Linked DNA regions of Homo sapiens: regions 2, 3, 4 and 5 are each linked to region 1. A link means that fine-mapping ties the variant in region 1 to the plasma level of a protein whose gene starts in the linked region. Region 1 holds a variant in brackets. A gene starts in each other region. All regions are shown on their reverse strands. Region 1 overlaps CCDST (cervical cancer associated DHX9 suppressive transcript). Region 2 holds the start of WFDC12 (WAP four-disulfide core domain 12). Region 3 holds the start of PYDC1 (pyrin domain containing 1). Region 4 holds the start of SLURP1 (secreted LY6/PLAUR domain containing 1). Region 5 holds the start of LY6D (lymphocyte antigen 6 family member D).

What was found. PIP is the chance, under the fine-mapping model, that this variant and not a neighbour inherited with it causes the effect. The UK Biobank Pharma Proteomics Project read protein levels with antibody pairs (Olink). The fine-mapping took linkage between variants from a reference panel, not from the people measured, so its PIPs are less certain.
Region 2: WFDC12 starts here. The variant in region 1 is fine-mapped to the plasma level of the WFDC12 protein (UK Biobank, PIP above 0.99).
Region 3: PYDC1 starts here. The variant in region 1 is fine-mapped to the plasma level of the PYDC1 protein (UK Biobank, PIP above 0.99).
Region 4: SLURP1 starts here. The variant in region 1 is fine-mapped to the plasma level of the SLURP1 protein (UK Biobank, PIP above 0.99).
Region 5: LY6D starts here. The variant in region 1 is fine-mapped to the plasma level of the LY6D protein (UK Biobank, PIP above 0.99).

Annotation. Positions count from the first base shown.
Region 1 is chr1:152,204,481-152,210,530 of GRCh38, reverse strand. The region is part of intron 1 of CCDST (cervical cancer associated DHX9 suppressive transcript); the gene reads right to left. Among named protein-coding and RNA genes, the nearest start is that of HRNR, 17 kb to the left of the region's middle. The variant G/A (reference allele first, on the strand shown) is at 3,855.
Region 2 is chr20:45,121,308-45,127,357 of GRCh38, reverse strand. WFDC12 (WAP four-disulfide core domain 12) reads left to right here and starts at 2,893. Exons shown (of 3, transcript NM_080869.2): 1 at 2,893-2,989; 2 at 3,093-3,251; 3 at 3,415-3,933. The coding sequence starts at 2,911. The coding sequence ends at 3,512.
Region 3 is chr16:31,211,450-31,217,499 of GRCh38, reverse strand. It overlaps PYDC1 (pyrin domain containing 1), which reads left to right and starts at 365. Exons shown (of 2, transcript NM_152901.4): 1 at 365-757; 2 at 1,343-1,538. The coding sequence starts at 472. The coding sequence ends at 741. It overlaps TRIM72 (tripartite motif containing 72), which reads right to left and starts at 3,381. Exons shown (of 7, transcript NM_001008274.4): 1 at 3,203-3,381; 2 at 2,372-2,768. The coding sequence starts at 2,761. RefSeq lists enhancers at 230-1,144, 2,060-2,974, 2,975-3,890.
Region 4 is chr8:142,739,208-142,745,257 of GRCh38, reverse strand. SLURP1 (secreted LY6/PLAUR domain containing 1) reads left to right here and starts at 2,852. Exons shown (of 3, transcript NM_020427.3): 1 at 2,852-2,930; 2 at 3,336-3,455; 3 at 3,982-4,309. The coding sequence starts at 2,873. The coding sequence ends at 4,115. RefSeq lists silencers at 5,655-5,734, 5,775-6,050.
Region 5 is chr8:142,784,036-142,790,085 of GRCh38, reverse strand. It overlaps LY6D (lymphocyte antigen 6 family member D), which reads left to right and starts at 3,547. Exons shown (of 3, transcript NM_003695.3): 1 at 3,547-3,621; 2 at 4,399-4,497; 3 at 4,630-5,204. The coding sequence starts at 3,570. The coding sequence ends at 4,865.

The sequences.
Region 1 (6,050 bases):
AACTTGACACACGAATTTTTTTTGTTTTTTGTTTTTTGTTTTTTGTTTTGAGACAGTCTCACTCTGTTGCCCAGGCTGGAGTACAGTGGCACAATATCGGCTCACTGCAACCTCCATCTCGTGGGTGCAAGTGATTCCCCTGCCTCAGTCTCCTGGGATTACAGGCAGGCAGCACCACATCCAGCTAATGTTTGTATTTTTAGTAGGCAGGGTTTCACCATGTTGGCCAGGCTGGTCTCGAACTCCTGACCTCAGGTGATCTGCCCGCCTCGGCCTCCCAAAGTGCTGGCATTATGTGAGCCACCAAGATACAGAAGGGGAGGAGTTTCATCTCATCAGATATCAAAATATATTACAAAGTTATATGATTTAAAACAGTGCAGTATTGTTGTAGGAACAGATATACAGAGCAATGTGACTCCAGAAACAGATCCATGCATACTTGATATACAAGAGCAGTGGTTTTGCTTATCAGTGGAGAGAGGCAACTCTTTCAATAAATGGTGCCAAGGTAATAAATTTTCCATAGGAAAAAAATTATCTCTATTTCACACCATTTACAAAAATCACTTCCAAGTAAATAAAAACCTAACTGTGATAAGCCAAACTTTTAAAAATTTTTAAAGAAAATATAGGAGAATATCTTTATGACTTTGAAATAAGTGCAGATTCTTTAAACAAGAAATATACAAACCACCAAGGAAAGACTCATGACTTTTACTATAATTAAATTACAAATGTCTGTAAATCCAAAGACAATCTCAAAAAGTAAAAAGGACAAACCACAGAGTCCAAGAACATTTTTGAAATGCCTATAAACAACAGATGATCAATAGCCGGATTATGTAAATAACTTATAAAAATTAAAAATTTAAAAAACAGCAAAACTTAGAAAATTCACCAAAATTTATAAAAATTAAAAATTAAAAAGAAACAGCAAAACTTATAAAAAGAAAATTCACCAAAGGTAATCTGAATGGCAAAGTGACATTTTTAAAACAATGCTCAGGGAAATAGATAATTAAAACACAATGAAATTCATTTCATACCCATCGGATCAGAAAAAAACTAAAGTCTGGCAATATCCAGTGTCGGGAGGATACTGAGCAGCAGGAGTCTGAACTGATACCTAATTAAGAGGAAATCTGGCAACCACAGACAAGTCTGTAACAGCAAAATGTTACAAACAACCTAAAAGTTCAATAGAAGAATGGATAAATTGTAATATACCCACACACTAAAATGCTATATAGCAGTTAAAATTCATGAGCTACAGGTACGTATATATCAACATGGACAAATTCCAAAAGTGTAATGCCAAGTGAAAAGGTTGCAAAACAAGTATACATGGTGTGATACCATTTATATAGGTTTACAATATACATAACAATACCATATATTGTTTGTGGTTAATACATATTTGGTAAATGTAAAAATCTTTATGGGAATGATAAACAGCAAATTCAAGACAGTGTGTACCTCTGGAAGGATGGAAGAAAATGGAACTGAGATCGAGTAAACAATACCAAAAGTTTTCTTAAGAAGATGGTATTCATTATATCATTCACTGACTTGTAAATCTACACTTACTTGTAAATCTTAAATTATTTTGTAAGAAAAAGGAGAACACAAAGAACAATGTTAGAATGCCCATCAAGGACTGCTCAAGGGAGAGTGTTCTGACAAGCTAGTCCACTGGTGTATCTGGTCCAGCATGTCCTAGTCTTTTAAATAAATGTCTCACCACATGAGTGCCTAATGATATTCATCAGCTGAACCACACAACACACCCTCTGCCACAGACTTCAAACACACCAAGGGGCCTTCTAGAAAATTTGGCTTTCTCAAAATTGACAAATGGGATCTAATTAAACTAAAGAGCTTCTGCACAGCAAAAGAAACTACCATCAGAGTGAATAGGCAACCTACAGAATGGGAGAAAATTTTTGCAACCTACTCATCTGACAAAGGGCTAATATCCAGAATCTACAATGAACTCAAACAAATTTACAAGAAAAAAAAAAACAACCCCATCAAAAAGTGGGTGAAGGATATGAACAGACACTTCTCAAAAGAAGACATTTATGCAGCCAAAAAACACATGAAAAAATGCTCATCATCAGTGGCCATCAGAGAAATGCAAATCAAAACCACAATGAGATACCATCTCACACCAGTTAGAATGGCAATCATTAAAAAGTCAGGAAACAACAGGTGCTGGAGAGGATGTGGAGAAATAGGAACACTTTTACACTGCTGGTGGAACTGTAAACTAGTTCAACCATTGTGGAAGTCAGTGTGGCGATTCCTCAGGGATCTAGAACTAGAAATACCATTTGACCCAGCCATCCCATTACTGGGTATATACCCAAAGGATTATAAATCATGCTGCTATAAAGACACACATACACATTATGTTTACTGCGGCACTATTTACAATAGCAAAGACTTGGAACCAACCCAAATGTCCATCAATGATAGACTGGATTAAGAAAATGTGGCACATATACACCATGGAATACTATGCAGCCATAAAAAATGATGAGTTCATGTCCTTTGTAGGGACATGGATGAAGCTGGAAACCATCATTCTCAGCAAACTATTGCAAGGACAAAAAACCAAACACCGCATATTCTCACTCATAGGTGGGAATTGAACAATGAGAACACTTGGACACAGGAAGGGGAACATCACACACTGGGGACTGCTGTGGGGTGGGGGTAGAGGGGAGGGATAGCATTAGGAGATATACCTAATGCTAAATGACGAGTTAATGGATGCAGCACAGTAACATGGCACATGTATACATATGTAACAAACCTGCACGTTGTGCACATGGACCCTAAAACTTAAAGTATAATAATAATAAAATTTTTTAAAAAAAGAAAATTTGGCTTTCCATAATTTTCCCAAAAGGAGAAAGCATTCATCAGCAAGATTAATATAAATACCCAGTGTTTCTGATAATGCATTTCTGACTGTAAATTAATAAAATGGCACTCTGGTTTTTATACTTCAGTCCCTGATGAGTTCAGTTACAATGAAACAGTTTTCCTGAGTCTGATCAACTCTGGGGCACTGATATGAGTGCATTTCTGGGTATATAAGAATGAGAACCAAACCCTGACCCTTTTTCTGGGCAACACCCCAACCTTATTCTTTGCCTTCCAAGGGGTAAGGGGCAAGAAAATTTTTCTAATAAGAGAAAGCAAACAAATTCCCAATAAATGCTTAGTTATATAGTTAAGCCAAGTTTTTCACAATGTTTCTCTTTTCCTTGTTATGACTCTAGAAACTTAAGAACCATAATGTTACAGCTAAAATAAGAAAAGAGAAAGAGGTGGGCTGTTTCAGGCAGGATCTTACAGAATCCCAATACCTCATCCCCAGATGGATCTCACTTTTGTTAGTTTTTGTCTGTACATTCAAATGTGATCAAGCTCTGGGAGACAGATTCACTCTAAGCAAAGTCTTAAGGGTCCAATTGATTTATTTACTAACTACAAGATAATAAACGTATTCAGAACAAGAATCAGCTGTTTAACATGGGGTATTCCCTGTCATTGGATAGATTCATTTGAGAGATATCAGGTTATTAGATGAGCTTCAGAGCAAAAGAGTTTTATTCTCCAAGGTTGTGCTATGGTAATCTGATGATTCAAAAATTTTTCCTAAAAGGGATAGAAAAATACAAAAGCAGCATTGTTATTGAACATCTTATGAACTGGGAACATTACATTATGTGCTATATACTTGACATATATTTATTTATTGTTTAATTTCATTCTCATAGCAACCCTGTGGTTATAAATGTTATTTTACTGAAGAGCAAACTGAGACTTTAAAAGGTCAA[G/A]TATATTATATTAGTAAAGTCAGGTTTTATACCTAAATCTGTCTAACTCCAAAACATATGTGTTTGCTAACATAACACTGTCTTGTGCTTCAGTAATATTTTTCTCTAAACAACTACAGTCAAACAACTAGGACTGGTGCAATCCACTCTTCTGGACACTGCTGGAGACACACCAACTAGTACTCATCCTCAGACTCCCCCTTTCCTGCTTCAATGCAACCAAACTTAATGTCTTGAGAGAGACTTGAGGAACACCCTGCTCATTAGCAGCACTTAATTTCCAAGGGTGGACTCCTGCTGCAGATAACTCATCTCTTCACATTTTATTTATTTCATCACATTTAACAGTTCTCATTAGTTTCAATTCCAGAGGGTGGCATTTTCTGACTTGACCTCCTTAATGCATGCCTTACTTTGTAGGTCACCAGGGACTAATAATAAACAATCACACACAGTCTGGTATCTTTTGAAAGATAAGTATCTGATACCCAATTCCTTCAATAGCCTGTCTCAGCCCTCTTCCTCTACCCCTCCTGTTCTCTCAGACTCCCTGACTCTGTGTGCTCTACCCTAGAAACAAAGGGCTCCTGAGCATCACCACCCACCTTGGTTTGTCCTTACCTACAAATTCTTGCCAGAACACTCCAGATGTTGAAGACTTAAAATTGTGACAAATCAGCCATGCAATATTCATAGACTTCACAAGCAGAGAAGTGAACTCCATGTGCAAAGACACTGAGGAAATAGTGTTCTCAGGGATCAAAGAGTATATGTCTTTGGCTGAAGCATGTAGAAAAACCAGTATCAGGAACTGCAGCTGGAAAAGCAAGTTGGAGGCAGGCTGTAAAGGGCTTTAAATAGAATCACATGAAGGAGGCGGAGAAGAAAGGTCAGTGAAGGACACTGATAAAGATGAATCAAAGTTGGAGGAGAGGCAGAGAAAATGGTGTTCTAGAACCCAAAGAGAGGGAATTTCACTAAGTAATGGAAGATAAAATGCATTTTATAAAGTTATTATAAATACTCTTCTGCCAGATAGCATATTGGCAGAAGAGTAGATAATACAGATCAATATAACAATAAATAGCCCAGAAACAGATCCTAATATATATATTTTTAATTAATTTGTGAACTGTCTGCTACATAGTTAATATATATAGTGTACTTAGAAAAGTGTCTGGTCCACAGTAATCATCTAATAAATATTAGTGGCTATCTTTATTACTACTTGTTGTTATAATTCTTATTAAATATCAGTGTGAAAAGATTCTTTAAAAAGTTTGTAGTAAAGAGGAAATAAGAGAGTAGGCAAGGAAGAAAGAAAAATCCTTTATAAAGGAAGAAATTAAAATATATGCTGGAAACACAGGCAGCATGCAATAAAAATTTACTGAATGTGAATAACAGTTCTAAGTCAAGTGGAAGGTGATTTATAGAAAGTAAGAATCTGTTGATACAGAGAAAGGAATCGTTGTTGGATCAAGGACCTAGAAGGAATGACAGAAATTGAATCAAATATACACATAGAGAAATCAGTCTTGGAAAGGAAAAGAATACCTCATATACTCTTGAAACAAAAAGGAGATTAAAATTCAGCAAAAATACAATTACCTCCATGTTTTTAAAAGAGGTTCCTAGGATGAGCTGCATCAGAATCACCTATGGTAATTATTTAAAAAGCAAACTGATGGCCTCTATCCCAGATCAACTAAATCCAAATTTCTAGTAGATGGGACCCAGGAATCTGTATGTTAGTGGTCCATGACCTAGTTGATTCCTTTTAGAAACAAAGTTAGGAGAATTCACATCCGTTGGCCCCTATGGAGACAACAAAACTGACTCCTTGCCCAACCACCATTATGACTAAGCATATAAAGTCGCACCATTGGAGAGGAAAAACAAAAATCTTTACAACCCTGAGATAAGCTAAAAATGAGGAAGAAGATTCTACCTAGTCTTCCAAATCAATGAAGCCTTGAGCCCTTTCCTATAAATTGCTAACTCTCTAATGTAAACAACTTCATCCCTGACTTTTGCAACACTGACACCTACAAGTATGATAATGATATGGAGGAAATTTTTTCATCCACATGAATAGACTAACTGTAATCTTGGTAGCCTGACTCCTCATTCTTTTTGAATCACTTCCCAATCTTAACAAAGAAGGAAGTAAAGTGATCTACTAAAAGGAAGATG
Region 2 (6,050 bases), not on the chromosome of region 1:
AAAAGTGAATAAGACTTAAACAGACATTTCTCCAAAGAAGATATACAAATGGCCAACAGGTATGTGAAAAGATACTCAACATGTCTAATCATCAGGAAAATGAAAATCAAACCATAAGATCACCTCATACCTGTTAGGATGGCTTTTATTTTAAAAAGAAAAGAAAAAGAAAACAAGTACCGGTGAGAATGTGGAGAATTTGGAACCCTTGTGCACTGTCAGTGAGAATTTAAAGGAGTATAGCCACTACGGAAAACAGTATGGAAGTTCTTCAAAAAATTAAAAATAGAGCTATCACATGATCCAGCAATCCCCCTTCTGGGTATTTATCCAAAAGAATTTAAATCAGGATCCCAAAGAGATATTTGCACCTGCAAGTTCATTGCTGCAATATTCACAATAGCCAAGAAATGGAAACCTAAATGTGCATTGACCCATTGACAGATAAATGAGGGAAGGAAAAAGATTATATACATGTACATATATATGCATACCATGGAATATTATTCAGCCATAAAAAAGAAGAAAAGTCTATCTCATGCTACAACATGGGTGAACCTCAAGGACATTATGCTAAGCAAAATAAGCCAGTCACAAAAGGACAAATATGGCATAATTCCACTTTTATGAAGTGTCTAAAGTAGTCACTTATAGAAGCAGAAAACAGAATGGTGGTTCCAAGGGTCTGGGGGTGGGGGGAATAGGGAGTTGCTATTCAGTGGGTTTCAGTCATGCAAGATGAAAAAGTTCTAGAGACCTACTGTATGACACTGTGCCCACAATTAACAATACTGTTAGTATGCACTTAAAAATATGTTAAGAGGTCATGTCTTATAGTATATATTTCTTACCACAATTTTTTAAAAAAACACGGTGTTGAGCAAAGCATGCAAAATACAAAAGAATACTTAGGCCATAATTACGCTTACACGAAATTAAACAACACGTATCACTAAGCAAGCCATAGCAAGAGAGCAAAACTTTAAAGGAAAACATGAGGATGATTAACAGAAAGTTCAAGATAGTGGTTACCTCTGAAGTAGGGATGGTAATGTCCTATTCTAAATTGATAGGTTCATAGGTGTTTATTATTCTTTTTCAAAAGGTATAGAATGTTGATTACATTCTTTCATATGTAGGATTTATTTTACAATACTTTTTTTAAAGAAGTATCATCAACAGTCAATTACAAATGACATTTTGGGGAGAACCGGAGAAACAAATATGAACTGGCTATGAGATGACATGCAGAAACTATTAATTATCTTAGATATGATAATGGCTTTGTGATTATATTGAAGAATATCCTTATTCTTAGAATTTGCATGCTGATGTATTTAGGAAATAGGAACATAATGTATTCAATTTCATTTCAAATATTTCAACAAATGTAGCTATAGGTATTCTAAAATATCCCAAACTATTAATAATTGTTAAATCCAGTTGTAGGTATACAAGTATCATTGTTCTGTTATTTCAATTTTTCTGTATGTTTAAAAAGTTCATAATAAAAAGGTGGAGGAGGAAATAGCCAATACATTCCAACATTCTAGTATTTGTTTATGAACTTCCCAGATTCCATCCCTGGTATCCAAATGATCTGAGTCCAGTGATATGACTGGTGAGATTGTAACCAAAGATTCACCACCTAATAAGGAGTAGGCTCACTTCCAGGAATGGAGGTATCCTCCCTGCCTCCACTTAACCCCAACTCAGTCCCTTCCACACTTCAGGATGTGGAACACCCCAAACCCAAATCTTTGCATTACTCAGGGGTCCTGTTAGTAAATGACAGAAATCCAATTCAGACCAGCTTAGGCAGAAAGGTGAATGTATTGGGTGGTAACATAACCCTGGGTATGAGTGGGGCTGATCTCAGGAAAAAGTTTAGTGAAGGACTAGATATCCTCTAAATTACTCCCTGTCCATCTCTCATCTCTTTTTATCAGCATCTTAGATTTATCTTCTCAGAATTTCTCTCTCACCAGGGCCAGGACCAAATTTCTGGAGTTTCTGGGCTTATATCTGCAACTTTTCCAACAGGAAGGATTTTCCTCCCTTTAGTACTCATTCAAAGAAAGGACCCCAAAAGCCTGGTCACACACACACACACACACACACACACACACACACGCACACACGTCCATGTCTTCTTCCAAATCCAGGAATTTGGGGGATGCAGGGGCAGAGGAGGGAAAACAAATCCTATGAAGATGATACAGTATAATTATTATGCTCATTGTATGAATGAGGAAACGGAGGCTTAGAAAGGTGAAGCTGCTTTCAAAGTCACACAGCTGGTGACAGGTCCAAAATCTGCTTTCCTCCAGGCCACATGAGATTGGCGGGGGGCAGGAGCACACGGTGCTGGAGCGCAAGGCTGAGAGTGAATGTTCAGGACAGACATTTTAAGCACTGCCATTCAGATTCTTCCTTGGGGTGAGGTGAGAACTGAGAACAAGTCCGGGGCAGCACAGGAAGGAGGGAAGATTTTGGTCCCAGGTGAATCAGGCATGAAGAGGGACTGATAGAGAACACGGTGGAGTTGAGGAAGTCTGGCCCTGCCACTGCCTCGTGTGTGAACTTGAGTAATTTCATGCCCTTTCTGTGCTTCTTTTCCTCCTTCCATAAGATAGTTTGGCCCTGGTGGCGCCTAATGGTCAATCACGTGTCCATTTCTTCTCCTCGTGTGAAGAACGAGGGTCGCTCTTGGATTTCTTCATCTATTCCAGTGCAGAGCCTTAGGGAAAGCCCCAAGTCCCTCCTCAGAAGGGGCCATTTCCAAATAGAGCTGGGAAGTGCAGCCTCCCTTGCCATTTTGAGCCTTCAGCTCCACCCACTGGCATGCCCAGCAGGAACACTATAAAGCCAGGCTCAGCCCAGCTCCCAGCCAAGCACCTGCCTGGCAACATGGGGTCCAGCAGCTTCTTGGTCCTCATGGTGTCTCTCGTTCTTGTGACCCTGGTGGCTGTGGAAGGAGTTAAAGAGGGTGAGCAGACATGGTGGAGCTGGGTGGGGCTGGGCTGGGGAGAGGTCCTGAGGGGCCCTCTGGGGCTGGAGTTCTCATATCACCTTGTGGCTTCCTCCACTAGGTATAGAGAAAGCAGGGGTTTGCCCAGCTGACAACGTACGCTGCTTCAAGTCCGATCCTCCCCAGTGTCACACAGACCAGGACTGTCTGGGGGAAAGGAAGTGTTGTTACCTGCACTGTGGCTTCAAGTGTGTGATTCCTGTGAAGGAACTGGAAGAAGGTAAGGAGACCTGCCTCCCAGGGCTGGGGCTGTCCCTTCCCTGCCTCTATCTGACCCATGAAAGTTCGGAGGAATTAGTCCCTTTAGCTGGTGTGGGGAGGGATGGCTAAAGCTGGCAGGGCCCTCAGAGACCACCTAGTCTGAACATCTCCATTGTCCAAAGGAGGAAACAAGGATGAAGATGTGTCAAGGCCATACCCTGAGCCAGGATGGGAGGCCAAGTGTCCAGGCTCCTCCTCTACCAGGTGTCCTCAGAAATGATGCTGGGTCCTTTCTACCTCTGGGGGTCACTCTCACTTGGCACCTGCCCCTGAGGGTCCTGAGACTTGGAATATGGAAGAAGCAATACCCAACCCCACCAAAGAAAACCTGAGCTTGAAGTCCTTTTCCCCAAAAAGAGGGAAGAGTCACAAAAAGTCCAGACCCCAGGGACGGTACTTTCCCTCTCTACCTGGTGCTCCTCCCTAATGCTCATGAATGGACCCCTCATGAATGAAACCAGTGCCCTTATAAGAGACCCCAAAGAGCTGCCTTGCCCTTCTGCAATGTGTGATCACAGCTAGAAGGCACTGTCAGAGAAGAGAAACTGGTCCTCACCAGATGCTGAATCTGCTGGTGCCTTGATCTTGGACTTCCCAGCCTCTAGAACTGTAAGAAATAAATATTTGCTGTTTATAATCCACCCAGTCTATGGTAATTTGTTATAGCAGCCCAAACCTGCTAAGACAACCTAATAGTAAAAAAAAAAAATCCTATTCAACATTATCAAAGTGAATAAAATATAAAATACCTACAAATAAATCTAGAGATGTACAGAAATTTTCTGAAAGGAAACCCTAAAACTTTATTAAATGACATTTTAAAAGATCTGGATAAATAGACTAAACTTTTCTACAGAATAAATAAATAAATGTTTTTTAAAAGATATGCTCTTCCCCAAGCAGGAAGCCTCCTCAAAGTGTTCACCTTGGTCAGCATAATTTATACCTGAAATATAATTAAAATTAAAACCCACTGGGTTTTGCAAACCCTAATGAAATAATTGATTCTGGCAATGATTATCCATGGCTTCTGAATATTTACAGGGTGCCATTTCATCACCCTGTGGTATATTTACAGTTTGTAAGAGGGAAAACACAAGTTTACAACTTGAGGATTCAGGTACACACCGAAAACACATTAATCTGTCTCCACAATGCTAAAAATGGGTAAAGCGGACCTCCGTTCCTCCTGAGGTGATGCAACACAAAACACACAGCATCATTCAAGAAGGGCTCCTGCCAAGACAGTTGAGCATGAACCTCACCAAGCCTCTACAGCTAGCATTCATCTATGGGAAATGTGAAGGACAAAGAAGATGAAAGACATCACAGGGAAGCAACATGGGACATTCTAAAGAACAATTTGTCTGTTTTGTTCAACAAGTCAATAGCATGAAGAAGAAGAAGGAGGGAGGAAAGGAGAATAAAAAAGAGTTGGAGAGATTGTTCTAGATTAAAAGAAACTTCAGATACATTACAGCCAATGCAATATGTGCACCAACAACCATAGAGTCACTTTTGAGACAATAAGAAAAACAAGATGCAAATAGAATATTAGATGATGTTAAGAAACTGCAGTTAATTTTCTTAGGTGTAACAGTAGGATTGTCATTATGTGAGAAAGTGTCCTTAGTTTTTAGAGATGCACACTGAAGTATTTAAAGGTAAAGTATAAGATCGGTTGGATTTACTTTAAAATACTTCAGCCAAAAAAGGGGTGGGGATATGCATGAAGGAATTCTTGTAAAATGGTTCATTGTTGAATCTGGATGATGGGTATGTAGGCTCCATAAAAGTATTTGCTGTTCTTTTGTGCATTTTTGAAAACATTTTATGATAAAAACAAGGGTTTGTTTTTGCAACTTAACAAAATGATCATTAGGTTCACATGGAACAATAAAATACTTGTAACCTGGAAAATTGAAAATGTAGACTAATGAAGGGTAATGGATACCACCAGTCACTAAAACATATTATGGAGCTACAACAATTACAGCCACAATACAAGCATACCTTGTTTTATTGTGCTTTGCAGTCATTGCATTTTTTACAAATTGAAGGTTTGTGGCAACCCTGCACCAAGCAAGTACATTGGCTGCATGTTTCCTATAGCATGTGCTCACTATGTGTCTTTGTGTCACATTTTGGTAATATTCACAATATTTCAATTTTTTTCATTATCATTACATCTGTTATGTTGGTCTGTGATCAGTGATCTTTGATGATACTTTCCTAATTGTCTCAGGGTGCCATAAACTGTGCCCACATAAGACAGTGAATTTGATCGATAAATGTCACATATGTTCTGATTTCTCCCCCAACCGGCCATTCTCTGTTTCTCTCCCTTGGAACACAACAATGCTGAAATGAGGCCAATTAATCATCTTACAGTGGCCTTTAAGTGTTTAAGTGAAAAGAAGAGTCATGTCTCTCACTTTAAATCAAAAAAAGCTAGAAATGATTAACCTTAGTGAGGAAGGCATGTTTGAAAACCAAGAAAGGTCCAAAGCTAGGCCTCTTTTACCAGTTAGCCAAGTTATGAATGCAAAGGAAAAGTTATTGAAGGCAATTAAAACAGCTACTCCAGCAAACACACAAATGGTAAGTGAAACAGACTTATTGTTAATATGGAGAAAATGTTAGTGGTTTGGATAAAAAAATCAAAACAGCCACAGCATCCCCTTAGCCAAAGCCTAATCCAGAGCAAGGCCCTAACTTTTTTCAATTCTATGAAAGCTGAGAGGTGAGGAAGCTGCGT
Region 3 (6,050 bases), not on the chromosome of region 1:
TTTTTTTTTTTTTGGAGACAGGATTGCCTAGGCTGGAGTGCAGTGGCAGAATCACAACTCGAACTCCTAGGCTCAAGCAATCCTTTTGCTTCAGCCTCCCGAGTAGCTGGCACTACAAGCATGAGCAACCATGCCAGGCTACAAAGCCACTTCTTTGCTGGGAGGTGCCTGACCATGGAATCAGTTCCATTCCTGCCTCAATGACTTGCAACCTGTTTCCTCCTCTGCAGATTGGGAACAGCAATCCCCACCTCAACAATTTGGCGCCCCCACTCTCCCAGGGGAAACTGGGGGACCCTCTAGGCGGTGTTTGCAGAGTCCCCTCCCAGCAGGAGCCACAGGGTTGAATAGGAGCTGCCAGATCAGTCTCCTTCCCGGGACATCCCCGGGGGCGGCAGCTCCACCTGCTGCAGGAAAGGTAGGACCTGATGGCTCCAGGCCCTCGGAGGCTCAGAGGCGCAGGGCTGAGCCATGGGAACGAAGCGCGAGGCCATCCTGAAGGTGCTGGAGAACCTGACACCGGAGGAGCTCAAGAAGTTCAAGATGAAGCTGGGGACGGTGCCGCTGCGCGAGGGCTTTGAGCGCATCCCGCGGGGCGCGCTCGGGCAGCTAGATATCGTGGACCTCACCGACAAGCTGGTCGCCTCCTACTACGAGGACTACGCAGCCGAGCTCGTCGTGGCCGTGCTGCGCGACATGCGCATGTTGGAGGAGGCCGCACGGCTGCAGCGGGCTGCGTGAGGGCCACTCTGAGCTGGTACGTGATCTCGGGACCCAACCCCGCTTCCTCGCCAAGGACCCACGCGTCAGGTCCCGCCCAGAGCCTTCCTGTTCCCCTCCTTCAGGGTCCCTCCTGGGGTCCTCCCTCAGACCTCCGGCCAGCCCCTCCCGGGGGCGAAGGGCTGGGCTGCCGCGAACCCTGGTGGGCTGCATCTCGCCCCACTGCCCCCTTCCAGGCTCCTGGGCTGCCTGGGCCCTGTTCCGTTTCATGGGTTCTGTGCTTTCTTCGCAGATAAAGACGGGCAAGGTTGGGCGAGGTTGGGTTTTTTTTGTTTGTTTGTTTTTTGTTTTTTTTTTAGCGGCAGCAAGATTTATTGCAAAGAGCAAAAGAACAAAGCTTCCACAGCATGGAAGGGGATCCGAGCGGGTTGCCCTGAGGTTGGGGTCTTAAGCACAGGTGTGCTGGGATGGGAGGGGTCCCGGGAGGAGGCTCCTGCCCTGAGCTAGGAGACCACCAGCTAGGACTGGGCTGAACTGGGCCAGGCAGGACTGAGAGGCTGGGTCCCTGGGAAGTCTGGGGGCCTCGAATACCAACGAAAGGACGGTGGTCTACCCCTTCTAGGAGGCGGGTCAAGGCAAAAGGAGTAATGCAACGCCTGTGAAGCCAGCCCCACGCGCGCACCAGTCGCGTAAGACAACAGCAGTGTCTCCACCTCGGGGACCAAGGACGCCTCCGTGCCTCCAGACCCCGCCTCCTCCAGCCCCTGCACCTGTCATTTATTCTTCCACTGCCCAATAAATATTCATGGCAGACTTTACTGGGGCTGCGCGCACACGTGCCCGCCGGTAGCTATACGTGTGTGCTTTTGCCACACGGATGACACGCACCAGCCAGTGTGCGTTCGTCTCTATTTGCCTCTGTCTGGGTGTCTCTGCTGGGTACTTCGGGACGCGCACAACTGCGTGTGGGCTCCCAAGGCTTTCGGGACTTCCAGCTCCACCCAGAAAAACATCCTGGACGGGGCTCTCGGTGCCACCCTGGGCCCGCACACATAAGTGCAGATCCCGGCTGCCTAGCCCTTACAGTCTCCCTTCTGGTGAGGCCCCGCCTGGGGACCGTCAGGCCAGCCCAAGTTCCGCAGCTTCAGGGGTGCGTGGGCCTCCGCTGAGCACAAGGGGACAACCCTGCCCCGGCCGCCTGGCTCGGTCCCGAACGCCGCGCCTCCAGTCCAAAGTGGGCCAGCGCCGAGCAGGGAGCCAGCCCGAACGGCCCACCGGGTGCAGGAATGCGAGCGTGGGCCGCAGGGGCTGGTCAGTCCCTGCTCCGCCTGGCTCCGCCCGGCCCATCAGACCCGCCCTGGGGCTCCGCCCGCCCATCTCCAGTTTCCTCTAGGGACTAAGGCCGGGAAACCTACGTTTGCTCAGCGCCCTTATCGCCAGGCTCCATCCCTGCGCGGCTTTCCTCTGCCAGCCCCGCCTTAAGCTCCTCAGACCCTCTTTCCTGGCTGCTTCGCCCCGCCCCCGCCCCCCGCAACTCCAGGAGCTCGTGAGCCTCTCTAGAGACTCAGAATCCAAATCACTGCAGCGACCTCCCCATCGGCCCCGTGCCACCGAACAGCCCCTCCGACCACGATGCGCGCGGATCCCGCACCTTGAGGCGTGCGTGGGCCTCGGCGGCAGGCAGGAGGCGATGACCGCGGTGCGAGCCGAGTGAGGCGCACACTCCGCACACCAGCGCGCGGTCCTGCTCGCAGTAGATGCTCAGCGGGTCCAGGTGCTCCTCGCAGTGGCCCTGCGGCACCTGGGCCAGCCCCTCCACCAGGCGCGCCAGCTGCAGGTTGGTGCTGAGTGCCTGCGGCCGCGTGGGGGCCTGGCAGCAGGGGCAGAGAACGGTGCCATCCGCCGCCGGCTCCCCGGCCACGCGGCCTAGGCAGGCGCGGCAGAAACTGTGGCCGCACTCGGCTGTCACGGGCGCGTCGAACAGCTGCAGGCACAGCGGGCAGGACAGCTCCTGGTGCAGGAGGCCGGGCGCAGCCGACATGGCGGGCCTGGGTGGAGGAGGAGTAGGTTAGGGGGACCCCGCGGCGCCGCGCTCCCGGCCCAGCCCTGGCCCAGCCCTAGCCCAGGCCGGGCCCGCCGCCCCGCAGGGAGAAGCCCCAGCCTGTAAAGACCTCACATCCTACACTGGATGGGACTCTGACGGCCAAGGGGAAAGAGGAACTCGGTCTCAGGCCCAAAAGCAGCCTCCACTGCAATTCTCAGCTCCAACCCCAAAAATATGCCCTATCAGTCAACCCCAGTTCCTGAACACAAGCCCAGATTCTAGCCCACTGTCCTTGCCCTCGCCTTAGCCCCAGGCCTCAGCCTCTGACCTTAGTCCCGGACCCAAATTCTCCAGAGCCCCCACTCCGAGACTCCCCTCCCTCACTTTACCAAGATACCCAGACCTCCCCTCCCCCTCTCTCCAGCCCACGGGACTCACAGGTCTGGTTGGAGATCTTAGGCTGAAAGAGTCTCGAAGGAGGACCGGTCAGGGTTGAGCTTAGCTGGACTGGGGTCAGGGCTGGGTCCAAGGATCTGAGACAAGCAGCAGGCTCCAAGCAAGGACAGGGACTCACAGGGGCAGCTGGCAGTGGACACCACGCGTGATGGGCACACAGTGCTCAGCGGAAGACCCTCCCAGACTGAGCCATGGCCCCAGGACTATATTTAGCTGCCCTGCCCAATCCCTCCCATCACTTCCGGAAACCGTTCTAAAAGTGAGGGCTGAGTAGTCCCTGGGCACACATCACATGACAGGGCCACCTGTCTTGGCCCATCCACTGTTCTCTCCCCGGCCTGCCTGGAGTCAGAGCTCAGAGCCAGCGGGGAGCCAGGGCCTTTCACACCACAGAAAAGACAGAAAATTGAAGGGGGTCTGCCCTTTCTCCCCCCACTCCCACCTCCACACTCTCCAGCTCCTTCCTCCTTGCTGGCAGCCCCTCCCCAGCCTGTCACCCACTCATTCCCCAAGTTTATGGCTGACCAAGGTCACCCTGGCAGGATTACCCCACCTGCAGGAGGGCAGGACCTCACCCCACCCTGAAATGTTTTCTTCCTCCAGAGCTGAGGGGAGGGTCTTTTCCACTTTGGTCTCTCTAGTACACCCAGGACAAGCCTGGGACAAAGTAGGCCTCTCTAAATGCTTGGAGAATGAATGATAGAGAGACATTGAACAAATGAATGAACTGAATCCAGAGCCTGCAGCCCAGAACTCAATTCTGCCCTGGTTCCTGTATGTGTATCTTTCAAATCTCAGCTGAAATTTCATTTAAGTGGCGCTGGGATAACTGGCTAGCCTTATGCAAGAGAATGAAACTGGACCCCTACCTTTCACCATATAAAAAAAATTAACTCAAGATGGGTTAAAGATTTAAATGTAAGACTTCAAACCATAAAAATCATAGAAGAAACCGCAGGAGAAATACTATTCTGGATATCAGCCTTGGTAAAGAATTCTTGACTAAGTCCTCAAAAGCAACAAAAACAAAAATTGTTAAGTGGGACCTCATTAAACTAAAGAGCTTCTGCACAGCAAAAGCAAAAGCAACTATCAACAGACAGACAACTGAAGAATGGAAGAAAGGCCAGGCGCGGTGGCTCACGCCTGTAATCCCAGCACTCTTGGGAGGCCAAGGCGGGTGGATCATGAGGTCAGGAGATCGAGACCACAGTGAAACCCCGTCTCTACTAAAAATACAAAAAATTAGCCGGGCGCAGTGGCGGGCACCTGTAATCCCAGCTACTCAGGAGGCTGAGGCAGGAGAATGGTGTGAACCCGGGAGACGGAGCTTGCAGTGAGCCGAGATCGCGCCACTGCACTCCAGCCTGGGGTACAGAGTGAGACTCCGTCTCAAAAAAAAAGAATGGAAGAAAATATTCACAAACTATGCATCCAACAAAGATCTACTATCCAGAATATATAAAGAAACTAAACATTTCAACAAGCAGAAAACAACCCCATTAAAAAGTTGGCAAGGGCCAGGCACAATGGCTCACACCTGTAATCCCAGCACTTTGGGGGGCCCAGGCGGGTGGATCACTTGAGGTCAGGAGTTTGAGACCAGCCTGGCCAACATGGTTAAACTTCGTCTCTATGAAACATACAAAACTCAGCCGGGTGTGGTGGCAGGTACCTGTAATCCCAGCTACTTGGGAGGCTGAGGCAGGAGAATCGCTTGAACCCGGGAGGCAGAGGTTGCAGTGAACCGAGATCGCACCACTGGACTCCAGCCTGGGTGACAAGAGCGAAACTCCAACTCAAAAAAAATAGCTGGGCATGGTGAAGAACACCTGTAGTCCCAGCTGCTCGGGAGGCTGAGATGGGAGGATTGCTTGAACCTGGGAAGCAGAGGTTGCAGTGAGCCAAGATCATGCCATTGCACTCCAGCATGGGCAACAAGAGCAAAACTCCGTCTCAAAAAAAACAATAAATATTAAAAAAAAGAAAAGAAAGAAATTTCATCTAGAATAAAAACCAAAGTGCTAACTGTGGCTTACAAAGCCCTATCTGCTATGACCCCATTAATCACTCTGACTCTTTTATCACCCCTTTCCCCATTGATCACTCGGCATCAGGGACTTTGCACTTACGGTCCCCTCTGCCTGGAACACTCTCCAACCCAGGTACTGCATGGCATCCTCTTTTTCCTCCCTCAGACTTTGCTCAATATTACCTTTCCAGCAAGACCTCTCCCAATTCCCTGATTTTAAATCTCCTAACTCCCCAACATCTCACTGCCTGGCTTTCCTTTTCTCCATAACATTTATCAGCATCTGACATGCAATGTATTCTACTTGTTTGCTGGTTTCTTGTCTGTCTCTTCCTACGGAATAGAAATTGTGTTTACTGCTTGTCTCCAGCTTAGACTAAAGTGTGTGACACACATTAGGCGCTCTACAGATACTAGGTGAATGAATAAACACGCAAACTCAGTCCCTCTCATTTGGCCTCTCCATCTTTCTCTTAGCTTCCCTCAAACCTTTTCCTGGTTTTACTCTTTCCTCTCTCAACTGCTGTCTCTCTCAGAATGAATTTTTGTTTCTGTTTCACTCTCTTAATCTCCCCTTTGGACTCTCCCTTTGCCTGTCTCTTAGGTTCTTAATTTTTTCTTTTTCTTTTTTTTTTTTTTTTTGAAATGGAGTCTTGCTCTGTCGCCCAGGCTGGAGTGCAGTGGTACAATCTCGGCTTACTGCAACCTCCACTTCCCAGGTTCAAGCGATTCTCCTGCCTCAGCCTCCCGAGTAGCTGGGATTATAGGCACGTGCCACCACGCCCAGCTAATTTTTGT
Region 4 (6,050 bases), not on the chromosome of region 1:
ATCAACTCTCTCAAATGTCATTCATTTAATAATCCATCCACCCATCTTGCCCCCATTCATCCATCCATCCTCCACCCACCTATCCACCCATCCTCCATCCATCCATCCTTCTGAAATCCATCCATCCACACATCTATCCAACATCCATCCATGCATCCACCCACCCATCCTCTGCCCATCCACCCATCCGTCCCCATCCATCCACTCATCCTCCCCTCATCCCCCACGCATCCACCCATCCATCCTCCACCCATTCCCCATCCATCCCCCACCCATCCACCCATCCATCCCCCACTTATCCATCTACCCATCCATCCACCCATCCATCCATCTATCCATCCCCCACCCATCCTCCATTCATCCCCCACCCATCCATCTATCCATCCCCCACCCATCCATCTATCCATCCCCCACCCATCCACCCATATATCCTCCACCCATTCCCCATCCATCCCCCATCCATCCCATATTCATCCCTCACTCATCCATCTACCCATCCATCCACCCATCCATCCATCCACCCATCCATCCATCTATCCATCCCCCACCCATCCTCCACTCATCCCCCACCCGTCCACCCATACATCCTCCACCCATTCCCCATCCATCCCCCATCCATCCCATATTCATCCTCCACTTATCCATCTACCCATCCATCCACCCATCCATCCATCCACCCATCCATCCATCTATCCATCTACCCATCCAGCCACCTATCCATCCCACACTCATCCTCCACTCATCCCCCACCCATCCACCCATACATCCTCCACCCATTTCCCATCCATCCCCCATCTATCCACCCATCCATCCATCTATCCATCCCATATTCATCCCCCACTCATCCATCCACCCATCCATCCACCCATCCTCCACTCATCCCCCACCCATCCACCCATATATCCTTCACCCATTTCCCATTCATCCCCCATCCATCCATCCAATCCATCCCCCATCCATTCCATATTCATCCCCCACTCATCCATCTACCCATCCATCCATCTATCCATCCATCCATCTATCCATCCATCCCCCACCCATCCTCTATTCATCCCCTACCCATCCACCCATACATCCTCCACCCATTTCCTATCCATCCCCCATCCATCCACCCATCCATCCATCTATCCATCTACCCATCCAGCCATCTATCCATCCCCCACTCATCCTCCACTCATCCCCCACCCATCCACCCATACATCCTCCACCCATTCCCCATCCATCCCTCATCCATTCCATATTCATCCCCCACTCATCCATCCACCCATCCATCCACCCATCCATCCATCTATCCATCCATCCCCCACCCATCCTTCATTCATCCCTGACCCATCCACCCATACATCCTCCACCCATTTCCCATCCATCTCCCACCATCCACCCATCCATCCCATATTCATCCCCCACTCATCAGCTACCCATCCATCCACCCATCCATCCATCCACCCAACCATCCCCAACCCATCCTCCATTCATCCCCCACCCATCCACCCATCCATCCTCCACCCATTTCCCATCCATCCCCCATCCATCCAACCATCCATCCCCCATCCATCCCATATTCATCCCCCACTCATCCATCTACCCATCCATCCACCCATCCATCCATCCATCCACCTATCCATCCATCTATGCATCCATCCCCCACCCATCCTCCATTCATCCCCAACTTATCCACCCATACATCCTTCACCCATTTCCTATCCATCTCTTACCATCCATCCATCCATCCCATATTCATCCCCCACTAATCCATCTACCCATCCATCCACCCATCCACTCATGCATCCACCCATCCATCTCCCATTCATTTACCCATCCATCCCCCACCCATCTATCCATCCATCCCCTATCCATCGCCTATTCATCCCCCATTCATCCATCCCCCATCCATCCATCCATCAACTCATCCATCTATACAACCACCCATTGGGACATCACAGGACAGAGAAACCAGAGAGGCTGGTATACCTGGAAGGACTGTGGAGAGGGGCACCTTAGTGGGTCTCACAGCATGGGGAAGATGTGGGACATCAGATGGGAGACCAGGCAATGTGGTCATTGAGCGGTATGGCATAGGCAGGCATGCGTGTGGAACAGGGTGTCGTGGGGGGCACGCAGTAAAGAGCAGACAACACAGTCAGGCCAGGAGGCTGGAGGGTGAGCAGAACCTTATTGTCAGGCGCCTAAAATCAAGAAACTCAGGTTTGGTCTAAAGGCCATTAGTGGGAAGGGGCTGGCAGTGATGAGGGGCCACTCCTGGGCCCAACCTTGTCAGCCTGAGAGTGGTCTAGCTGGCCCATGCTACCCTCACCTGACACCTGCTTCCTACCTCTGGTTTCTACTTTGCAGGTGTGTATCAGGTGTACACAGACCAGGTAGAGGTCTGTGGAGAGGGCTGCAGGCCAGGCTGCAGGGAAGGGGTGCCAGGCGGGGCTAGAGCAACAAGGGCAGAGGCTACACTGAACCTGGGTCTTAAGGGTCCCCCAGGCTGGGGCTGGGTGGCCTATGTGAACCCCAGAGGCACAGCCAGGACATGGGGGCTCATCAGAGGGGCAGTCTGAGCTCAGCAGGAAAGGCCTTCTCTGTCAGAGCTGTCCCAGGACCACTGGACATGGCTGAGGAACAGTGAGTTCCCCAGTGTTGGAGGTGTGCAAGCAGAGGCCTGGCCATCGTCCTCAGACAGAGCTCCCAGATCCAGCTCCCTGCCCGTCTGCCATGTTCCTGCCAGCTGCCTCCCCACTGGGCCCTTTACCACGTTCCTGACTCACACGGCCGGTTCTGCCACCGCCCAGAAGCCGGTGCCCAAGGGCCTGGGTATAAATCCTTGATGTGAGGCTGGCTACCTCTCATCACTTCTGAGCACGGAGCAATGGCCTCTCGCTGGGCTGTGCAGCTGCTGCTCGTGGCAGCCTGGAGCATGGGCTGTGGTGAGTGGGCCGCAGGCTGGTGGGGACCCTGCCTCTGAGCTTGTCTGCCCACCTCCTAGGGGGATGGGGCTGTTGGGGGTGCTTTGTGGCTGAGAGCCTCCTTAGGCCTCCATGAGGCTCACCCTCCTCATTCTCAGTGAGCCTCCTGGGTCCCAGAGCCCAGCTTCACCCTGGGACAGGGGTCACGGCTCCACTCTGCAGGAAGGGAGACTGAGGCTTGGTGGAGGGATGCAGCATTCAAGTCTGTGGCTCAGCTCAGTTAGAGAAAGCTGCCAGAGAGGCCCCTTGAAGGGCTGCCCGGGGCCTTGAAAGATGTCAGCGAGACTCCTTCAGCCCCTGCCTCCTGGTTCCAGGATGAGGCCACCGAGGTCAGGTGATGAGGTTCTGCCCCCATCCCTCACCCAGGTGAGGCCCTCAAGTGCTACACCTGCAAGGAGCCCATGACCAGTGCTTCCTGCAGGACCATTACCCGCTGCAAGCCAGAGGACACAGCCTGCATGACCACGCTGGTGACGGTGGAGGCAGGTGAGGCCAGGCCCCACGGCAGCCCTGGGTGCACTGGAGTCAGGGCCACCTCCCCCAAGTGCCTCCCTCCTTTGCTGGTGCTCCTCCCGGCCCAAAAGGCAGCAGGTGGGATGGGCAGAACAGGCTGCCACACCTTGGCAGGGGTGCCTTCCACGAGGGTGGCACAGCCCCCTCAGAGACCCAGTCCTGGGGCACCAGGCGCTGGAGGTGGGTGGGGCTTAATGGCCGGGGTACCCTGGGGGGCTCAAACCCCAGCTCTGACACAGACCCACTGGGTGGTGTTGCCACAGCCTCTGGGCTCGGGCTCCCATCTCAGCGCAGGCACTTCAGAGGTCTGACAAGGCCTAATAATTCATGAACAGGTCACAGTCAGAGGAGGGCTGGGCCCTGGGTGGCTTCACAGATGTGGACTATTGGGAACAGGGATCACAGGGAGGGTGAGGTCAGGCGACGGCGGCTGGGAGCAGTGCAGCAGCAGGCAGGCGCTGCAGGGGAGTGAGGGTTCTGACACTGGCCCACCCTGCAGAGTACCCCTTCAACCAGAGCCCCGTGGTGACCCGCTCCTGCTCCAGCTCCTGTGTGGCCACCGACCCCGACAGCATCGGGGCCGCCCACCTGATCTTCTGCTGCTTCCGAGACCTCTGCAACTCGGAACTCTGAACCCAGGGCGGCAGGGCGGAAGGTGCTCCTCAGGCACCTCCTCTCTGACGGGGCCTGGCTCCACCTGTGATCACCTCCCCCTGCTTCCTGCTGCTGTGGCACAGCTCACTCATGGGGTCTGAGGGGAGAGAAGCACACCAGGGGCGCCCTCTGCCTTCCATACCCCACGCTTATAAAACATAACTAAGCCAAGAGTGGACATGACTTTTGTCCTTCCTGGGCACTGACACCCTACAGAACTGGCCTTCAGGAGAGCCAGGCTGAAGGACAGCACATTCTAGGCACCTGCTCCTCCCTCTCACCCAGAGCCTCTGTGACCCATTTCACAGATAGGAAAACAGAGACTTAGGGGAAGAAATGCCTCCTGGGCCCCTTTCCTGATGCAAACTAGCCTGGCATCTCAGACCAGGACCTGTACCCTAGCCCAGGGAACATCTCCCGCTAAGAATCTCCCCTGTAAACCCTGGAGACATCGCTCCCACCCTAGAGAGGGAAGGAAGCTCAGAGTTGGCATCCACTTTCCTCCAAGGGTGGATACATCTGGCTCTGCCTGCCCAGCCCAAGGGGTCTTCCTGGGTGTGTGCACCTGGGCCTGCTGGTACCACACAGCTCCACGGTTTCAGTCACCTCCTCTGACAACTGCCCACTGTCCCCTTGGGACAGCTGAGATTAGCGGAGGAGCCCCGGGTTCTCAGGACCCAGGAGACCTGACTTCCAGGCTCGCTTCCCCCTCTTCCTGGCCCTGGCTGTCCCATCACAGTCACAGTGCTCTGTGCCACTGTCACCCCTGTCGGCAGGTGGGCAGAGCCAACGGGGAGCACGGGCTGCTGTGGGCCTGAGCCACCCCTGGACACTGCCCCTCTCCAGGCCCCAGTCCCCTGGTGTCTCCTGGGCTGCACACCATCTAAGCGCTGCCCAGCTAGGTCTTGGGTTCTAAGGCCCCACACATCAGCTGGGTCACGCCCGTGGGGTCTTGTGGGCACCTGTGCCTGCTGGGGTGGGAGCGGTATGCAGCAGGCTGTGGTCAGACCAGCTGGGCATACCCGAGGAGCATGCGGGAGTAACCAGGGCAGTGGCGGGGGTCGCCTAGGACCCCTGTGAGAGCCCACCTCTGTCTATGAAGGGCCCAGATGTCAGAACCCACCCCCTACCTCTACGCCCTCCCAGAAATACCAGGAATTAAATGCTGTCCCTGGGGAGCAGCCCCGACCAGAGAAAGCTGCCAGAGAGGCCCCCTTGAAGGGCTACCCCGGGCCTCCCCGTTGGCCAGCACCGGGCCGGCGGCGTGGCTTCCGGTTAGGGCCCGTCCCCTGGGTCATGGCCGGACCTCCAAGGGCCTCACCCGGGCCTCGATTGGAGCCAAGGGGGCAGGGCCTTGGCCTCACCAGGGGGACGGAGCAAGAAGTCGCCGCATCTCTGGCAGCGTCCCCAGCGGCACAATGGGGATGAGGCCTCCAGGCTCTTTGGGAGCGCAGTGGTGAAGGCTCAGCAGGTGCCCCTATCCCTGGGAGGGCACCTGCGAGGGGCCCCCGATGCTGAGCCCGCACGGCCAGCAGAGGGCGCGCGCCCGAGTCCCGGAACCCGCGCCAGGAAGACTCGTCCCAGAGCGCGCACCGCGAGCACGCGGCGACCCTGTGCGCTCTGCCCGGAACCTGCACTGCGCGCGCAGCTGGGCCGCCTGGACCGTAGGGGTCCGCAGCACAGAGTTCAGAGAGCCCTGGCCCTCTCGGCCGGCCTGGAGGACGCCCACCTGCCCTGCCTGTCGCCGCGACCCTCCCAGGAAATGCGTGGGGAGGCCACGGCCAGGGAGGGACCTCGGGAGGGCGCGCCCACGGGGTGGGGCTCGCGGAGGCCAGGCGCTCACCACCCGGGCGCGCGGGGTCTAGGGAGGTGAGTGGGCGTCGCATCCGTGACCGTCGCAGGACGTGGGTAAAG
Region 5 (6,050 bases), not on the chromosome of region 1:
TCACCCTCCACATCATCACACCCCTGCTGTGGGTCCCACAGAGGCAGCAATTGTCTGTTCCCACTCCCTACTGGTCTGCAGGCCCTGGGACCTGGGCCCTGTCTCTCTTCTCTCCTGGTTTCCATTATATCCAAAGTGCCTTGCATATGGTTGGTCCTTATAAAATGTTGAAGAATGAATGAATGAATGAGTGAGTGAATGAATGAATGAATGGAGTGCCTCAAGGCAGACGGATGCATTTTGGAACCCCTGGGGTGTGGCTGGGATTCTGGCTTGCCCAGGTAACAGCCTGAGGGTGAAGAAGCCCTTCCTTGTGCCCTGGGGCTTCCCAGCTCCTCCAGCCCAGGCAGCTCCTCCAGCCCAGGCAGCTCCTCCAGCCCGCGGCCCCGCCTTGTCCACCGGGCACCCACTCAGTCAGCTCCTCCAGGCCAGGGCCCTGACTTGTCCACCAGGCACCCACTCAGCCAGCTCCTCCAGCCCAGGGCCCCGCCTTGTCCACCGGGCACCCACTCAGCCAGCTTCTCCAGCCCGGGGCCCCGCCTTGTCCACCAGGCACCCATTCAGCCAGGACAGGGCCCAGGGCTGGGCTGGTGCAAGCCTGGAGTACGGTGCTGTGCCGCCCTAAGCCAGGCGCTTCCCTCTCTGAGCCACCACACCCTTGTGTGTTCCTAGGGGCCCAGCATAAGGTAGAGGGGGCAGAAGGTGGGGGAAGGGGCATGAGCAAGGAACTTCGGCTCCAGACAGAAGCCTGGGCTTGTCCCCGTGCCGGGTTTCCTGGTTCAGGGAGCAGGGGGCAAGGCTAACGGGGTGGGGCGGTGGTTTTCCCTGCCCCAGGCCCCTTCGTCGCCTCTCCCAGGTGTCATTTCTGCTGCCAATACCCTGATGGTACCAACCAGGCCCAGGGCCCCAGCTCCAGGGGCTGAGTGGGAGGGGTGGAGTGGGGGAGGGCCCAGGCCCTAGAGAACAGAGGAGGGAGGAGGGGGGAAAGGCTGGCGGTGATAGTGAGAAGTGCTTGAGACCCCACCAGGTTCTGCCCCAGAACGTGCCTGGAGCTCTCTGGCCCTCACTTCCTCACCAGTGAACAAGCACTGGGCAGGGACTGACATGAGGGGCCACAGTGTCTCCTCTCCACATTCCAATCCCTGGCTCTGAGGCTCTAGTCAGGTCACTGCCTACAAGAAACCCTCCCTGACTGCACTGTCCCCAGAAGCTCAGCTGTCCAAGGGCTCCTGGCATCAGAAGCACCCGCTTTCTCCTGAAAGTGAACTGTGTAGGGCTGCTGTTCATGCTTTTGCTAGGACCACCTGGGATGGGCAGCTCATCCTCGTGGGCAGCCCTGCCAGGTCAGAGGCCCTCATCCCACAAAACTGGAACCCCGCTCCGGCTCCCATGCCTGGCAGGGACGCAGCCACAGTGATGCCTGAGGTGTCCCACGGGGGTGAGCCAGGTGTGCAGGGCCCTCCTCCAGCCCCAGGTGTGGGGAGCACACTCCCCCATGGCCCCACACTCAGAACCCACTCTCAGGCCACCTGACATCCCGGACCCTCCAGCTCCACCAGACCCAGCAGGAATTCCAAACCTGTTTTTCCAGCAGCTCTCATGCCCCTGGCCACAGTGAGTCACCCTCCCCACCTGCCATGCCCACCGAGTCATCACCCCGCCACCAAGCCCTGAGCTCTGCCTCCCAAGGCCCCTGGAAGCACCTTCCCCCAAGCTGCCCATGCCTCTCACTGTGACCCATGGACACAGGGCCTTGGAGCTGGAGGAAACCTCCTCTCTCTGGGTGGGGGCATGGACCTTTGGGTCACCTGCCTTGGCAAGTGAGACTACACACGTCCCCACCAAGCTCCAGCCAGGGCCAGGCACCAGATGCAAATGTGGGGCTGCCCCAGGGGGCTCCCGCCTGCACCCTGGTTTCTAAAGGCACCACCAGGCAACCCCTCCTGTAGGTGGATCCTCCAGGCCCCGGCACTGTGTCAGGGAGAGCCCGGCCAGGAGCATTCTCAGGAGACATTTGCTGGGATCCCCGGCATCTGAGACGTGGGGCTCAGCAAGGGAGAGATGCCGGGAGGAAGGGCCAGAGGGTCTGTCTCAAGCCCAGGCCTGACTGGCCCCAGTACCCACGGTGCTCCCAAAAGCCTCAGCCCAGCCCAGGACCACCCTCCTCGGAACCGGCCCTGCCCTGCCCTGGGCCTGTTGTTGTCTGTTCATCAGCCACGTGGCAGCGGCGGCAGGAGGCTGGGCCCAGGGCTGACCTCCATCTGTGCCCCGGCTCCCACTCACCTTCAGCCTAGCCAGGGCAGGGGCAAAGCAAGTCTGTGGGCCCCTCCACACCACTCAGGTGGGTGCTGCCCAGCACAGGCGAGCGGCAGAGCGTGCTGGGCTGAGCAGGTGGATGGGGGCCCCAAGAGGTGGGCTCCTGCGCGAGGCGGTGGGTGCTCAGAGACCCCGTCTCCAGGGAAAGAAAGTCCCTCCTGTGAGTATAAAGAGGGTGAAGGCGGGGACTGGCCTCCACTCAACGGGCAGCAGACCAAGAACCTGCTTTGAGGCCCTGGGTGCTGGGGCCCAGCCCCAAAGAGTTCACGATTTTGGGGAGACTGGAGCCGGGACACCTAGAGCAATAGTTACAAAGTGGCCGGGATGGCGCTGCCCCCAACGTAGCAGGAGGGGCCTGGAGAGTGGGGGAAGGAATCCCACGGGGAGGGCTTCTGGGGCCCTGGAGGGCGGGAGGCAGGGCTGGTGGAGACCAGGAGGGCTCAGTCTCTCCCTGCACAACGCAGGGTGGAGTTGCTGCCTCCACAGCCCGGGCCTTCTGCCCACAGGGCTCCCCAGGCAACTTCGAGGGCCGGGTCCTCACAGTCCTCACTCTGTCCAGTGCTCACCTCACTGCTGCCCCAGCTGCCCTCCCTGCCTCGGAGTGGCCTCTGCCTCTGCCTCTGCCTCACACACCCCATCAGCCCACAGCCACCCCGAGCCCTTGCAGCTCAAGGACCTTCTGCATCCCCGGCAGCAACCCTGAGCCCAGAGCCAGGAGAGTAGGACCAGCACCTGCCCTTCCTACCTCCCCTGCCCTGGACACCCACGGGCACCCACAGGGCACCGGGCACAGGCTGCAACTCTATTGAGGGAACTATGGGGGGAATGCAGGGACAAAGACACAGGATGGTGATGGATGGTGGGGGGTGGGGGGCGGGGGGTAGCGGGTGGCAGGTCAGAGACAAAGTGACCCAGGAACGGACGGCAGCGAGAGAACAAGACCCACAGAGACAGAGAAGTGAAAGTGGGAGAGATGGAGGCACAGCAGCAGGAACAGCAGGGCCAGGAGGCCACTGGGCCCCGTTGCGGAGGGCAGACCTCTGCCTGGCGGGGGGCAGCAGGGGCAGCGCCCAGCGACAGCCAGGCTGGTGGGCGTGGGCCAGGCAGGGTGGGGCAGGTGCCCGTCCTGGGCTGACGCTTGCACAGAGCCCTGCAGAATGCCGCTGGCTGGCGGACTGCCCACCCCCGCCCAGCCCGTGCCTATAAGGCCTTGGCAATGCAGGGGCCCGCACTGCTCCCAGACGACATCAGAGATGAGGACAGCATTGCTGCTCCTTGCAGCCCTGGCTGTGGCTACAGGGCCAGGTGAGGGGCTGGGCCAAGGGGACGGGCGGGTGGGCGGCTGTGGCCTGTGTGGTCACCAAATACTAGGAGCCTGGAGCTGACGACATCTAGGCACAGAGAACCCCGACACTGTGGGTGCTAGACTCTTCAAATTTAAAACAACATGGAGCCCGAATCTTAACGAGTGTCAGATTTACAATGTTTCAGAATCTGAGGATCTTAGAACTGACTCCTGGAGTCACGGACCCTGAGAGAGTGGAGCAGGGGGTTGTCTTGAGATGCTTCTCACTGGGAGAGCGGCCATCTAGTCCCTGCCACCAGCCCCTCCCGGTCCCCAGGTCTCCCCCAGCACAGCCCAGGACAGCCCAAAGGCCACCAAGCCCTTCCTGTCATAGGCTCAGAGCAGCCAAGCTGGCTGCCCCCGGGGCCTTAGCTCCGTCAGGCCCTCAGAAACATAGCCATCTCCTCCAGGGACATCCCCTGGGGTGGGGACAAGAGCCAGTGTCCTCTTGGCAGTCGCAGAGCTCCCTGAGACCTTGGAGGAAAGGCTTGCAACACACCCTAGACAGGGGCAGGGCAGGACACCTCTTCCAAGCCGGCCCAGGCTGGAATACATGTCCCCTGAGGCTGCACTCAGGGCACATGCCCTGCCAGGACCCAGAGCCCGGGTTTGGGGGCCTAGGGCAAGGGCAGCAGGGCCTCTGTCCAGGAGGGGTCTCTGCAGGTGGGGGAGCAGGCCCTGCTGAGTCACCAGGAGGCCTCTGTTGGGCCCGCTGAGCCGGACTCCCTCCCCGCCAGCCCTTACCCTGCGCTGCCACGTGTGCACCAGCTCCAGCAACTGCAAGCATTCTGTGGTCTGCCCGGCCAGCTCTCGCTTCTGCAAGACCACGAACACAGGTGGGTAGCATCTGTCCAGGTGTCCCTGGGGCTGGGGGACATCCCTGGCTGTTGTGGGTGTTGGCTGGAAGGTTGTGGGGAGGTGGGGGGCAGAGGTGGCTGCCTGGCCTGACCACACTCACCTGTGCCCAGTGGAGCCTCTGAGGGGGAATCTGGTGAAGAAGGACTGTGCGGAGTCGTGCACACCCAGCTACACCCTGCAAGGCCAGGTCAGCAGCGGCACCAGCTCCACCCAGTGCTGCCAGGAGGACCTGTGCAATGAGAAGCTGCACAACGCTGCACCCACCCGCACCGCCCTCGCCCACAGTGCCCTCAGCCTGGGGCTGGCCCTGAGCCTCCTGGCCGTCATCTTAGCCCCCAGCCTGTGACCTTCCCCCCAGGGAAGGCCCCTCATGCCTTTCCTTCCCTTTCTCTGGGGATTCCACACCTCTCTTCCCCAGCCGCAACGGGGGTGCCAGGAGCCCCAGGCTGAGGGCTTCCCCGAAAGTCTGGGACCAGGTCCAGGTGGGCATGGAATGCTGATGACTTGGAGCAGGCCCCACAGACCCCACAGAGGATGAAGCCACCCCACAGAGGATGCAGCCCCCAGCTGCATGGAAGGTGGAGGACAGAAGCCCTGTGGATCCCCGGATTTCACACTCCTTCTGTTTTGTTGCCGTTTATTTTTGTACTCAAATCTCTACATGGAGATAAATGATTTAAACCAGTGTGGCTGTGGCTGTGCTATTCTGGGACGGAGGAGCTGAGGGGCGGATATCAGGCCACATAGGTACCCTGAGCCTCCAGCACATGTCCCCTGGGGCCAGTCGTGGGGTGATGCCTGAGGTGGCACCGTCCGTCCCCACCCTGGAAGGGGCAGGCTGCTCAGATGCCTCCCACCGCCCCAGAGGTGGAGGGCACTCCTGGGGTGAGGCCTGAGTAGGAGCACAGGGTAAGAGGGCTCGCAGGCCCCTCCCACACATAGCACCTAGGGGAGAAGGAACCCCTCAGCCTTTCACCCCGGGTCATGTCTCTGAGACCGGGGTTCAGGAGCCTCCAGAGAGGCCGGCTTGGGACACCCCAGGCCCAACCCCAGCTTTGGAGCCAAGTAGGCACTGACTACCTACAGCCATCGCCAAGGCAAGTCCAGCTGCCCAGGGAAAGTTCAGCCACCATCCAGGAAAGTCCCATGGACCCTATCTATGGGAACCCAGCAGCCCCTTGGCCAGACCTCACCAGGGTGAAGCTAGACTGGGCGGGGAGTATGACGCAGGGAATATGGGCCAGATGAGGTCGCCCAGAGGCAGGGAGGGTTCCGCACCCACTGCGTGGGTTCTGGTATTTCGGGGATGAGGTTGGGACGTGCAGTGAGATGAGGCCCCCGGCAGATGCCCCAGCAAGGGGCCCTTCCACTTCTGGAGAGGGCCAGAGGCTCCTGCAGGCTGACCACATGTCCCCGGCATGGGAAGTCTCAGGCCTCACCAGGGTCAGAGCAGAGCTCTGCCTTCCCCCAGGCCAGCTCCCTCGCAGGCCTGGCCTGGAAATTCCGTGGTGGCAGAGCCCCCTCCGGCCGC